Regions from separate parts of the Homo sapiens genome. Here region 2 is linked to region 1. The links come from fine-mapping of genetic effects on gene expression. A gene starts in region 1. The other region holds a variant in brackets. All regions are shown on one strand. Distances are from middle to middle. Region 1 holds the start of ABHD2 (abhydrolase domain containing 2, acylglycerol lipase). Region 2 overlaps ABHD2 (abhydrolase domain containing 2, acylglycerol lipase).

Region 1 (4,390 bases):
TGGTCTGGAACTGCTGACCTCAGGTGATCCTCCTGCCTTGGCCTCCCAAAGTGCTGGGATTACAGGCTTGAGCCACTGTGCCCAGCCTATTTTTTAAATTATTATTAATTTTTAATTGACAAAATTTGTATATATTTATGATGTACAACATGCTTTACTTATTTATGTTTATCATGTTATTATGTTTATTTGTCAAACAAGGTCTCACTCTGTGGCCCAGGCTGGAGTGCAGTGGTGCGATCACAGCTCACTGCAGCCTCAACTTCCTGGGCTCAAACAACCCTCCTGCCTCAGCCTCCCCACTAGCTGGGACTACAGGCATGCACCACCACATCAGGCTAAATTTTAAATTTTTTGTAGAGACGGGGTCTCACTATGTTGCCCAGGTTGGTCTCAGACTCCTGGGCTCCGCCTCAGCTTCCCAAAATGTTGGATTACAGGCGTGAGCCACTGTACCGGTCCATGTTTTGATACATGTATACATTGTGGGATAGCTACACCAAGCTAGTTAACATATGCATTACCTTATATACTTATCTAGTGATAATCTAAAGCTCTTTTTTGGAAGTCCAAACTGTTTTAACTCAGAGTCAGGACGATGGGGTTCATCACTAAGAGACTTTGCTACTGAAGCCTGGGTTTTTCTTTTCCAAGATGAAAGAGAATACAGAGGAATATATAAACACTGAGATGAAACCTTTTTTTTTCAAGGTAACATGACAACTGAATGAAAAATAGAGCAATGGCAAAGGATTCTTTCTTCTCCTTCACTCTGATGTACCATGGCTGTGAGTTCTTTCAAAGACAGACACAAAGGGTCTGGGGCTACATTCAGGCCTGAGAAGCTATTTCTGTCCACACTCTGTGATGTCTACACCTTCAGAATGGGGAATGGGTTTCAGGGGTCTCTGACAGATAGAGCTCATGCAATGATTTCTGGTCCGGTGCTGATCAGCCTTCAAAGGATGTTATTTGGTTACGCTCCATAAAACTTGAGCCAGCCCACTGTTCCTTGTCACAACCTGAAATATGTTGGGAAAAATTTACATGGTAACAAATGCCACTTCCCTTCTCTGACTAAATCGCTCCTCTCATTTCATCCCCTGCTCCCTCTCTCCGAGCCCTATGGGGCCTTGGTAGGGTGGCCTTGTCTGCCCTACAGGGGTTGCATTTCAAGTCGCTCAAGTGTTCTATTCTTGGTACACGACATGCCATTGCAAAAGCAGTTTCAGGCTCATAGAATTTTAGAAATGGGCCTAGTTTCCCAGCCGGATGAGGTGAGTGGGTGATGGGGGAAGAATCAGCCTTGATTGAATGCCTGTTGAGTGCCAGCCACTGTTGGCATTTATCAGAGTTTATTTAATCTTCTCATCAACTACTATTGTTACCCTCAGTTGCCAAGTGAAGGGAGCATGCGGGAAGGTTAAGTGACTTGCCCAAGCCCACACAACCGGTAGGAGCCCCAATTCCAGGCCCTAGTTCCAAGGCTACATTCTTCCAGGCGGCCTCCAACTGGGTTGGTTAAGGGTTGAAAGGACAGTGGGACAATAACTGAGGCCCGTATTGCCCAGAGCGTCCCCATCCCCCGTCCGGAGCTGGAAGAGGCCATAGACCGCTGCCTCCACATCTTTTCCTCTCCTTCGGGTTCGGTGACTCACGACCCTTCTTCCTCTCTCCCGGGATATGACCTCAAATTTCACCCCTGCGAAATTTGAGTACACGTGAGTCAGTCAGTCGGCCTGGACCCATAAGAGCCCCAGCTGAGCTACCAGCAGCTGAGCTACCAGCCGACCTCATTCCTCTGAGCCCAGTCGACAGCTGACCTTACCCAGCCCTCTAAAGCAGTTTGCGGTCACAATTACCCGTCTCTTCACCCCGCCCCCATCGACATCAAACACGACCCACCTTCTAGCCCTCCTCCCCTTTCCCCGCCCACTCCGGGCTGGCCTTATCCAGTAGCGTCTGGGTCCCTGGACTAAAGCCGTCAAATGTAACCAATTGCTGAGGAGCTCTCCCCTAAGAATCCCGCCTCCACTCTGAGGAACAGCTTCGCTGATCAATGGATCCCCTCCTAGACGCAATGAGCGCGCGGGGCAAGTGGAGAAGCGGCTGAACTGCCCAATGAACAAGCGGTTTCCGTGGTTAGGGGCGTGGCAGAAGCGGTCGTCAGGGGCGTGGCGGCAGTTACTTGGGCGGGGCCGGTAGCGGCGGGAGCTGCACTGGCCAGGGGTTCCGGCTGTATATCCATGAGCGCCGCTGGCAGCCGGGGAGCTGCAGGAACCAGACTGGGGGCGAGCTGAGCACCTGTAGTCAATCACACGCAGGTAAAGCCACGGCCGAGCGAGCTCCGCGGAGCGGGGATCGCACCCCGGACCCGTCGAACCGAATCTCCGAGCCCCGAGGTCCCCGGCGTAGCTCGGCCCATCACGCCGCAGCCTGAGGGGATCCTGGGGGGCCTGTCATCTGGCGCCGTGGGGGTCCCAGGGGCTGGCTTGCCCAGTGGTGGGGACAGCCCAGATCGCGGCGGGGGATACGCCTTCCTGAGGCCCTTTGTCCCCTTCTGCCCGAGGAACCGAGGTTGGGGACAACCCCGACCGCGGCCTTTCCCCCATTGGTGCTCACTCCTGGGTCTTCAGGGGCCTGGGGAGGGGTCTGCCGGTTCAGGCTCGGCGAAGAAGGTCCGGGATCCGCACCTGGAAGGAGAGGGCCGAGGGGCCTGATTACAGCCCGAGATACCCGAGAGGCCTCTGTGTTTCGGGGCTCCAGGGGCTCACGCAGGACCAGTGGGTTTAAGTTCTAGAAAGGCAGCTTTTGACCCACTTGGAAGCACATTTACCGAGTTCGGCCCCGCGACCGGCACTGTTCTAGGCCCTTCGTGAGCTTTTCCCACAGCTAGAGCTGTCCAGCAGCGCAGGAGGCTGCCTGCCAGGCCGGGCAGCTAGCGCCTCGACCTTGGCGATGTCCAAGCAGTGGCCTGATGACAGCCACCTGTGTCGGATGCTTAGGACTCCCAAGGGAGGACTGCATGACCCATCTGTAAGGGCCTTCTCTACCCACAAATGCACTCTAAGTGGCCTTTGATGCCTAGCTTGAGAAGAGTACTTCTGGGGGTCCATTAGGTTCCAAGTGGCTGTTGAATTCACCCATAATGAATTTTGAGGTTTCAGCTCTCAAGAGTGGGTGTTAGCAAAGAGACTGGATTATACAAAAAGATAGAGGTTTATTTAGCCACTGTGAAACTCCTTGTATTTGAACTACCATGGACCGCTCTCTTAATCTTCCCAATCTCTCTTTTTTGGTTGCTGGACCTCCAGTTTGTCAGTTTCACCTGCATTCCAGTAACCAAATCCAAAGGCATGTTCCAAGAACAGGCTCCACAGAGGGACCTGGAGAGACTGCAGGTTTGGCAGAGTCAACAAGATCTGTGCCCAGAGCTTTTCGAAGGCCGTTTCCTTACAGCCACATTAAGCAGAGTCCAAAAGAGAAATCCTTCACTACCCTCTGTCATTTGCCGGAATAGAGAGAACATAATAATCTAAAGGTCAGGAGGCAGAGAAAGAATCTTAACACACCTTGCTGTGTGTTTTAGGATGAATTAATCTTTGAACATCTAGTCAGAAAGCAGTCCATATACAGCTGGTAGTCAGCACGGACTGTGACATTTTAGAGCTGAAGGCACCTTAGATAGAGCTCATCTCTATCTAAGTCTAATTAGGTGGACTCTCATTCAGTCTCCTCAATGCACAGGTGAGGAAACTGAGGCCTGGGGTGGTCACAGGGCTGGTTGGTCATCACAGGCCCATGACTAAGGGTTGATCTCTTGACTGTATTTAGATCTAGCCAGTGCATGACTTATTTCACTCCAAGCTTAGTTTGCCCATTCTCAGTGTTTTAAGTTCTAGGGGAGTCCAGAGAGGTTAGGAGGACAGATTTTGGTGCCTGAGTGCCTGGATTTGAATCCCAGCCCTGCCTCTTACTGGCTGTACAACCTTGGGCAAGCTACTTAACTTCTCTGTGCCTCTGTTTCCTCACCTCTAAAACAGAAATAATAATGATACTTATGTTAGAAGATTGTTTTGAGAAGTGCATGGAGTTACTACATCTGAAGCATTTAGAACAGTACCTGGCACAGGGTAAGCACAATAGATTTGCTAGATATGATATTCTGTTGCCTTTTTGTACATTTTTCTTCATATCCACCACCCAATACTCTATCAAGAGCTAATTTTTCCCCCAGTCCCCTTCCCCCCACCCCCAAATTCATTTAACATATTCCAGATTTCATTTTAACACAGACAGCTGCAAGGGGTTTCCAAGTCACGTTGCATTTTATACCTTACTTATTTTTGTGATTCAGGTAATTTAGTTTCTATGTTAGTTCCCCCTTGCA
Region 2 (4,390 bases), 50 kb after region 1:
GCTCCTAGTTGATTAGCGTGTTCTTAAAAGAGCATTCTGTGTAGGTAATCCAGGGGCTTCACATTTAGGTATTTGAGTTTTCCTCCACTAGGAATAGTGGCAAATATAATGTGATTTTCCAGCTCTAATCTTCCCTCCCCATAACGCTGGCACAGATTTTGAGGTAGCCTTGGCCTGGGAAGTAGCCAAAAGGCACTGTGTTGGACAAAGAGCAGACCATTGGCATCTATGTGCATGTCCTCAGGAGAGAGGTGACTAGGCAGATGGGGACAAGACACGGGTGCTCTGTGTTCTGAGCGTCAGCGTACATCCTGTTTGGTTAGCACAGAGTGAGTCTGGGAACTTTGCACTTAGCACCTTGGCAGCCCAGGTCTGGGAATAGTGGTGCCTTCTCCTAAAGTTAGGTCACTAATCTTTGACTGGCTGTTTGCAGGACCAGTTCTCTAACGGATCCAGGGTTCCAGTGGAACCCTGGAGACTGGAACTCTGGAGCTTCTTAATAAACTGCCTCCCTACTTAAAGCATGGTGTCAAAACCAGGTTGAAATGCAACGTGAGGAGAGAGGACTGTGCTTTGGTGTGCCTAGGGAGGATGTGACCAGTTCCGCGTGCTGTTTGTGAACAGGAAGATAGTGGGATCAGATGCATTTAACATGTGGATACAGTTCTGAGGGGTTTTAACTGGTTTTCTTTGAACTTTAGAAAAGCACATTTATTTTTCCTTGGAGCAAAAAAGTAGTTTCTTTTTAAGTGGTTTTATTGTAACTCATGGGGCTGTTCTCCTAACATTCATATTTTATAGTTTGCACGATATGCACAAAGGTCACAGATGTACCAGCCTGGCCCAGTGGCCTCCGTCCTGTATTTAGAAACCAGTTCGGGAACGGAAGAGGATTGCTCTTTTGTTTCCTCAGGCCACTTTTGGTCATTTCAGGCAGAAACAGTCTCTGCATTGGAATTTTCCTGTGCAGATCCTGCAATTCAGGAATAGAGCATTTAGCAACAACAGTGAAAATGTAATGTGTGACAGCTGTGGAGAAGAATTTGCCTCCAGTGAGGGGAAAATGCTGTGTTCAAAGTGGATTTCTGATGAGCCTATTAATGGGTGTTTGGGAAGCTGAATATGTTGCTGCCATTTTGAGATGAAAGGCCCAAGGTGTTTGTTCCTGAAGCTAATGAGGAAGCCCTTTCCCAGCCTCAGCCTTACCTCCCCAGTAGGACTGGTGAGATGTGCACACAGGGTCTACTCCACATCTGGCCCTCCTGAAAAGAAGGGCTTCCAGTGGGGGCTGTGTCCTAGTGGAGAAGGGTGAAGCCCAGTGGGATGGGCTCACGAAGGACCTGCTGTTGACCTGCTGGCTTCAGGTCCACCAGGCTAGGGGTAGATAGGCCAGAAAAGAAACCAGAGGTGTCTGTGGTAGGAGCAGCAAGGGCCCTGGCTTCCAGGCCTGTGGAGCAGGGAGGCTCTGGCAGTTCAGGATCTGGAAAAGAACTGACAAAATGTTCTCCTAAACTCTGGCCCTTGCCGGCTTCCTTACCTTTCCTGTGTGCACACACATGCATGCACATGCACATGTGCACACACAGGAAGGCCTGGAACTCAGTTTGCAGACTCGTGGAGCTGCCACAAAGCTTCACTCCCAGTGTTTCCCCCACCACTGATGCTTGTCCTCCTGGGTTTATTCTCACCCATGAAAGTAGGGTAAAAATGTATCCCCAAATCAAACACCTGTCACCTTTCTAGAAGCACTTCCATCCTCTCTTGCTCTCACTGTCATCGCTCTCCTGGATCTTTGGGGAGATATTCAGTATGATTTTGTTAACATTCTGGCCTTATCTTAGAGATAATTAAATGTGAATATTCAAATTAATTAGCCCCCAGATGTATCTTCTGCAGAAAAAAACTCCTCTAACAAGAAGTCAGTTACAGTTGTGAGAAACATGCAAAACGAAAGAAATGTTTTTTTTCAAAGACCTGTGAAGACCACTGTAGAGAAGCTCCAACAAATTCAGTTTTCAATTTGAAGAAACATTATTTAATATAGAACATTTTGACAGTTGATCAGACAGGAGAAAATAGGCACAAAGCTGTTATTTTAACTTCTGGTTGGGGGAGTTGATGAGTCTTGAGTGTGATAAAGTAAGGAACGCTTTGGACTGAATCAGAGACCTGTCCTCTAATCCTAG[CT/C]TTTTTTTTTTCTTTTTTTTTCCTCATTTTTAAAACGGGGAAGACACCATTGCTCAGAATTGTGAAGATTAAGCTAGAAGGCCGGGCAGGATGGCTCACTTCTATAATTCCAGCACTGTGGGAGGCTGAGGTGGGAGGATTGCTTGAGCCCGGGAGATCAAGACCAGCCCTGGCGACATAGCAAGACCCTGTCTCTACAAAAAAAAATTAACTGGGCATGGTGGCATGTGCCTGTGGTCCCAGCTACTCAGGCGGCTGAGATGGGAGGATTGCTTGAGCATGGGAGGTTAAAGCTGCAGTGAGCCGTAGTTGTACCACTGCACTCCAGCCTGGGTGACAGAGTAAGACCTTGTCTCTAAAAATAAGTAAATAAATAAACTAGAGACATGACTCACCCAGCTCCTGATGGAGAGATTTGGTGCTCAGAAATATCTCTCCTCTCTGAGATCTTGGTACTCCCCATGATGCACTAAGTGAAATTGGTACTTCTCAGCCTCATGATTGTCTCCCCATAGTATCATCCTATTCTATCTCTCTGACCCCATTGCCCACCGCTCCTGTCTGTGACAGTAGCTGCCTGTGTATTCATCATGCATCCTACCTTCAGATTACGAATGCCACCAGGGCGGTCACTGTGTCCGGCTCTAATCTCTGTATGCCTCACAGCACTCGTATTTGTTGAATTTTATTAAATCAATATATAAGAGCCAAAATAAAATATAGGTAGAGGCAGGTTCGGACCTGATAACATCTTTGGTTTGGCCCCAGGTGCCAGCAGCACACTCCTAGTTGGGCATCCTCAGTCCATGTTGTCACTCTGAAAACAAATCTGTTTGTCAGAGTAAAGGTCACCTTTTTTTCTCAGTGGACAAATATTTTTTTCTGAAATGAAAAATTTGCTTTTCTTCCCTTGAGTGTGTGCACTCAAGTAAGCAGAGTGGAGGGCCTGTGAAGATGGGCATTCTCTCTGGAAACTGAGGAAACATCCCGAGCCTATGTCTCCTAACAGTCTTGGCACCTAACTAGAATCTGACCGGAGTTTCAGCACGCAGCCAGCAGAGGACATCACCAGCCATTTGAGTGTGCAGTTGTCTGGAGCAGCCACGCAGCAGGTCTCTGTAGCCCTGATGGAGAGAGTTTTCTTCTTGGGAGGGCTTCCCAGGATGATGTAACACCTCTGCGTTTTGCCTCAGTGGCTGAAGAGTCCCTTTGGACTTGGGTTTTGCAGAAAGAGAGGGGAGTCTGAGGGCAGAGTGTAAAGTGACACAGCCGGTGTGTAGAGCTGAGCAGCCTGTGTTAGGAACAGTCAGAGCCTGTGGACTTGTGAGGCTTCCACTCACGTGCTATGTTAGCAGTTCTTTTCCTCAAGCTCTACTGAAAGACCTGTGGACCTGACATTTTATGGTCACAAGCCCTGGAGAAGATAGCCATTCATTTTGCTGGATGACCTTTTAAATAAACCTCTAGAGTAAGTTCCAGGCAAATACTGGAGGTGGCTGTGTTTGCCCAACAGAATCCAGCAAAAACACTTCTCTGTGCTTGAAATTCCTTCTTGTACCTGATGCTTTGGAATTTAGGCAGGTGATAAATTAAAGATGAATTTCTTCTTTTTTTTTAACGTTACAATATAGTTAGCTATTATCTTGATATGCTTTCTAATATATAATGGAGTTACATATGTACATTTAACTTATGCAAATTCAACTCTACAGATTGAGAGAGAGACCCCCACACACACACAGACACACACATACACACACCACCTTATTTGTGCTGACCCTTCTGCCAGCTTCTCCATTCAAAGGAGCACAGGCCCCCCCTGTGTGTGATCTGGGAGCCTCACGTCACCTCTGCTGGTACCAGGGCCTGTGTGTCTCTCCTGCGAGAGAGAGCACCTTACTGTATCTTCACGTTTAAAGATGTGTTTTTGTTTTCCATTTCCTTTGTTTCACAACATGGCCTTAACCTCAAGCCACCAGTGCCATCTGTGCTTATCCACAGCCCCAGCCATCTTCGTGGCACTGAGGGAGAACTGCCTGGCTCCCTTTGCCCAGAGACAGTGTGTTACTAAGGGATGCTCAGGGCATAACTTTATTATAGTTAATAGTTTAGTTTCACTTTTTTTTTTTTGTTGGACAGAGTCTTACTCTGTCACCCATGCTGGAGTGCAGTGGCCCGATCATAACTCACTGCAGCCTTGACC

What was found. PIP is the estimated chance that this variant, and not a neighbour inherited with it, causes the effect. A credible set is the group of variants that fine-mapping cannot tell apart.
Region 2: its variant is the best candidate, but not a certain one, in a credible set for the expression of ABHD2 in whole blood (INTERVAL, PIP 0.70).

Annotation. Positions count from the first base shown.
Region 1 is chr15:89,086,240-89,090,629 of GRCh38, forward strand. It overlaps ABHD2 (abhydrolase domain containing 2, acylglycerol lipase), which reads left to right and starts at 2,217. Exons shown (of 11, transcript NM_152924.5): 1 at 2,217-2,324. It overlaps LOC124903573, which reads right to left. Exons shown (of 7, transcript XM_047433432.1): 5 at 2,596-2,693; 6 at 1,829-2,447; 7 at 1,322-1,702. The coding sequence ends at 1,488. RefSeq lists enhancers at 980-1,625, 2,236-2,415, 2,357-2,876.
Region 2 is chr15:89,136,668-89,141,057 of GRCh38, forward strand. All of the region lies in intron 3 of ABHD2 (abhydrolase domain containing 2, acylglycerol lipase), which reads left to right. It also overlaps the pseudogene HMGB1P8. Among named protein-coding and RNA genes, the nearest start is that of ABHD2, 50 kb to the left of the region's middle. RefSeq lists enhancers at 2,893-3,394, 3,395-3,894. The variant CT/C (reference allele first, on the strand shown) is at 2,187.